2 separate regions of the Homo sapiens genome follow, and region 1 is linked to region 2. A link means that fine-mapping ties the variant in region 2 to the expression of a gene that starts in the linked region. Tissue or cell type: whole blood. Region 2 holds a variant in brackets; the other region holds the start of a gene. All regions are shown on one strand. Distances are between the middles of the regions.

Region 1 (2,690 bases), 32 kb after region 2:
TGGGAGAAATGAATGCTATAATAGGAGTGAATGGGAAGCAATTTGAGACCAAAAGTAGAGAATCTAAGTAGCAAAAAATGACCAATTTTGTAAAAAAATCAAAAGTTGCCAATAAATGGCTATCAATGAACAATAGGAAATGCCATTAGCATCAGCGGTAGTGGGAGTATTATCAGATATGTTACCCAAGGATTCTACACAAAGGAAGAGGAAAGTTTGGGATATTTGAAGACATGATGACTTTACTGTAATAATTATTATCTATTACCTTGATCGTCTTCTTCAAAGTTAGAGTGGTCTAGGGAAGCTAGGGACAAGTTTTTATTAACTTTGTTAGTCTACCCACCTTTCTCCCAACACTTCAAGAATTTGTGGCCTGGGAAAACTGTGTTATAATAGGACATCCCAAAGCTGCTGGAACATCCTGACGCTCTGAAATTGAAATACTTTTCTGGGAGCTGATACATTTATTTAGCTGCTGACCATAACACACCAAAGACTGCAACAGACCCCACCCTGGAAGAAAAGCAGGCAGAGAATAAGGAAGTCATATATCACTGGAGAAAAATTAGGATTCTCCAAGCTGTGCATACTTTTTGTTTTAAATTTTTTACACAGGCTTGACAATGTTTAGAAAAGCCAGTCCAACATTACCAATAAAAGATTAGTGTTTAACCCCATATCCCATAATTGACACTGCAAATAAGACATTTAGGATTTATCTTGAAATTCCTACTGAAGTTCGATTTTCTTTTAATCACTGCTAAATCTGCATCAAGTTACACAAACTTTCTAACAGAAAAGTGTTTGTGACTAACAATAAATGAACTCCGTTCTTAGTAAGTTAATTTTAAAACATAGATGATCATTCTATCTCCTTAGTTTTGGTTGCCAATGCAAATGAGTCAGAGGATTTGCTTCAGACACTGAGATAATTGTGTAACTCTACAGCGGAAAATGCCATTGGAGAGTACTTGCTGACCTCACAGTTGAAAAAAACTATTTAAAAGATGTGGAAACCAGATGTTTCAGTCACATTTCAGCCACTGCTCTGAGAATTTGTGAGCAGCCCCTAACAGGCTGTTACTTCACTACAACTGACGATATGATCATCTTAATTTACTTATTTCTCTTGCTATGGGAAGACACTCAAGGATGGGGATTCAAGGATGGAATTTTTCATAACTCCATATGGCTTGGTAAGAACCTTCACTCATGAGCCTCTTGTTGAGAATGTCAATTCTTTAAATCATGGAGAAGGAAATTTAAAGCAGTAACTTTTTCTATTCTGTACAAGGCTGATGTTCTCAAAGAAAATGCTTAGGAAAGATAGCCTTTGGAATACATACGCTTTTTTTTTTTTAAGCGTTCTTGTCCTCTAAAATTTAAAAATAGCATTTTATAAAGTGAATTGTTCAGTAGAAAATAGCAGTTAATATTTATATTCAGTATGAAAATATATTTTTAAACTTTTCAAAGCAGATGTAGTAGTACAGTGAGGAGTATTTCTTTAACCAACTAGAAACTCCAATATAGTCTTCTGTTTTTATGTCAATGCATTTGCAATCAGATTTCAGAATCCTAACAGGTAAATTGGAGTCTACGAAAATTTTATAATAATTGCTTCATGGACTCTGAGCTATAGTCTATATCTTAGTTTTTTCAAACATTTTGACTATTTTGACCAAGCCAGCTTGCAGTACAGAAAAAAGTGAAAAATGTTTCTCCTTCTGAATGCATTCTTACCACTTTGATTCTTTCTGTTTCTACTATCCATATAAATACTTTTCTGACCCTTTTGTTAGACAAGGAAAGTTTCTTTTGTTATTTTGTTTTGTTAAATGTAAGGAATGAGACAGGCCAAACAGTGAAGATAAACAATAGATCAAAAAAGGAAAATGCAGAAAATCCAAAACACCCCTTAGATTACAGTATGCTAAACAATGCTTTAATTCTCATGATACAAATTGATATTGCTCTATGTTCATTATTGTGTTTAATAGTAAAAAAAAATTGAATTTCTTGGGGAAAAATGCATAGATTCTTGCATAGAATAAAGAAATAAAGAGAAGGCGAAATTAACCTAGATTTTGATTTTATGCTTTCTAAACAGCACAGTTGTAGAATATTTTCCCTTTCAGCATGTTTCTCTCTGGTAATAACTGCAACCATGCGGATTTCATTAAAAAGCCTAATTTGTAATGCACAGCCTTGCCGCCTATTTTTTTCAGCTTGAGCCAGTGAACTAATTTCACTGTGATCCATTTGGCCAAGACGGGATCTGAAATTTAGTAGAGGAATGAGCCCATCTCTTTATTTTAGTTGAATACAGTCAAATATAGGAAATACACTCATATTTGTCAGGATTTTTTTTAAATGTCATAAAGCTAGTAAGAATTAAATCCAGGCAGATAAACTTTGAAATATTATCAAACCCTCTAATAATCAAGTAATTTAGAGTTGTCTTTTAAAGTGTTGTCATATGTTACAAAAATATAAACCTGGACAATAGAAGTTTTGCCCCAGAGGTAGAGAGAAGCAAATTCAAACGTCTATTAATGTATGCTACAAATCTGAGGGTCAGGATAATTGCAAATTGCTTCAATCTGGGGCAAATTTTTGACCAGCCAGCCTAGCACAGATGTTTATAGTTGGTTGGATCAATATAATCTTTTTAGAAACCATTTAGG
Region 2 (2,690 bases):
TCCAAACTCTGAAATCCAAGTAACTACTATATTGTGGTGTCATTTATTCTTTGGAGATGATGAATTCTAAGGCTCTTATTCTTCTTTCAAAATAAGGTCTTATTATTAGATCTTACACCGAATACTCTGATGATGAAATGCACCTACTGAATATCTAGGTAAACGTAAAATGCCACTTTAAATACATTGCCATTATTTTTGCTATAAATTATATGTATATGCCACAATACATTGCTATTCTTTTGGCTTCAAATATATTTAAGTATAGGTAAAATATGTTTAATGCAAAAGAATAACAACATATTATAGAAGTAGCATATATGGCAACAAGAACACAAAAGACCAGAGTAAATGGAGTTATATGGTTATATAAGGCTTACATTATTTACTTAATAGTAAAACAGTATTTGTAGTTTGTGATAAGTTAAAGATCAACATTGTAATCTCTAGAATACCCACTAAAAAATAACACTAAATAGGTGTAGCTAAAAATGTCCATAGATGAGATAGAATGGCATATTTTAAATTAATATATATTACCCAAAAGAAGGCAAGAAAACTGAAACAGAGAAACAAAGAACAAATAGAAAATAAATAATGAAATAGGACACTGACCAAAATTTGAAAACAGGCTGGGTGCGGTGGCTCATGCCTGTAATCCCAGCACTTTGGGAGGATAAGGCGGGTGGATGACAAGATCAGGAGTTCGAGACCAGCCTGGCCAATATGGTGAAACCCCGTCTCTATGAAAAATACAAAAATTAGCTGGGCGTGGTGGTGTGCACCTGTAGTCCCAGCTACTCGGGAGGCTGAGGCAGGAGAATCGCCCGAACCCGGGAGGTGGAGGCTGCAGTGAGCCAAGATCGCACCACTGCACTCCAGACTGGGTGACAGGGTGAGACTCCATCACAAAAAAAAAAAAAAAAAAAAAAAATTAAAAACAACCAAATGTCTGTTATAATAGCTATCCACTGCTGCATCACAAATTACCCAAAAAGTAAAGGGAAACAACGTTTATTATCTCAGTTTCTGCGGGTCAAAAATCTCATCAAAAAAGCAGCAGTATCTTCTCTCATAAGGTTCCAGTAAACGTGCTGATTGGATTTGGAGATCATCTCAAGGCTCTGCTTGGAGAAGGATTTACTTCCAAGTCTACTTACATGGCTGTTGGAAAGACTCAATTTTTCACAGACTGTTAGACTGATGGCCTGAGTTCTTCACTGACTGTTGGCCAGAGGTCTTCAGCTCCTTGACATGTGGACCCCATGACAGCTTGCTTTATCACAACAAGCAGGCCAGAAGAACCACAGAGAAGAAGAGACATGGAAGTCAAATGTTTTATATCCAAATCTTGGAAGTGACACGCCATGGCGTTTGCCATATTCTATTTATTAGAAAAGAGTTGCTAGGTTGAACCCATCCTCATAGGGAGGAGATTACACAAGGATGTGAATGAATACCAGGAGGTGAGGATCACTGGAAGCCATGAAAGAGGATACCTATTGCATCTGTCAGCAAGAAAATGGATTTTAAAAGTGTAATATTTTTATACA[A/T]TGGAATCAGTTTTAAAAAAAAAAAAAAGCCACCAATACCCACAGCAACATAGATTAACCTCAAAAAATTTTACTCAATTATGTTGAGCAAAATATGAATTTCCAAAACAGGCAAAATTAATCTGCAATAACAGAAATCGGAACATTGCTTAACTCTGAGGGTTTGAAAGATGTCTTAATTTGTTTGTACTGTTGTAATAGAATACCGCAGACTGAGTAATTTATAATGAACAGAAACTTATTGGCTCACAGTTCTGGGGGCTCAGAAGTCCAATATCAAGGTGCCAACATCTGGCAAGGACCTTCTTGCTGCATCATCACATGACGGAAGAGCAAAAGGGCAAGAGAGGGAGAGAGTGCAAGACAGCATCAATCCATTCGTGTCTTAATCACCTCTTAAAGGTCCCACTTCTTAATACTGTTACAAGAGCAGGTACTTTTTTCTTTTTTGAGACAGAGTCTCACACTGTCACCTGGGCTGGTGTACAGTGGCACCATCTCGGCTCACTGCAATCTCCACCTCGTGGATTCATGTGATTCTTGGGCCTCAGCCTCCTGAGTAGCCATGATTACAGGCATGCGCCACCATGCCCAGCTAATTTTTTGTATTTTTAGTAGAGACTGGGTTTCACTATGTTGGCCTGGTTAGTCTCGAAATCCTGACCTCGTGATCCGCCCACCTCGGCCTCTCAAAGTGCTGGGATTACAAACATGAGCCACCGCACCCAGCCGGGCAAGTACATTTCTACATGAGTTTTGGAGGGAGCAAATATTCAAACCATAGCAAAGAATATTGCCTGGGAAGAAGCATGAGGAAAAGTTCTTAGGTGCTATAAGTATTCTGTCTTATTTTGTCTAAACTCATTGAACTGAACATGTAATGTTTGTGCATTTTATTGTATGTAAACTATATGCCCATAAATATAATAATAAAGAAAAATAAAAATAGATATTTAAAGAGTAATCTGGTTTTATTTCTTAAAAATAAAAGTAATATCAACATTCTGAACTTTTTTGGTCAATGTTAAATAAAACATATCAGCCTAATATCATCTTCTCCCAACACAAGAATCTAGACACGGTGAAGGAATAAATGAGAAAGACACTGAATCACCAGAAAACAACTATTAAAAATGG

The links. PIP is the estimated chance that this variant, and not a neighbour inherited with it, causes the effect.
Region 1: TNFAIP6 starts here. The variant in region 2 is fine-mapped to the expression of TNFAIP6 in whole blood (TOPMed, PIP above 0.99).

The regions. Positions count from the first base shown.
Region 1 is chr2:151,356,562-151,359,251 of GRCh38, forward strand. It overlaps TNFAIP6 (TNF alpha induced protein 6), which reads left to right and starts at 1,031. Exons shown (of 6, transcript NM_007115.4): 1 at 1,031-1,199. The coding sequence starts at 1,106. The region is part of intron 2 of LOC101929319 (a long non-coding RNA gene); the gene reads right to left.
Region 2 is chr2:151,324,076-151,326,765 of GRCh38, forward strand. No RefSeq gene overlaps it. Among named protein-coding and RNA genes, the nearest start is that of TNFAIP6, 32 kb to the right of the region's middle. The variant A/T (reference allele first, on the strand shown) is at 1,554.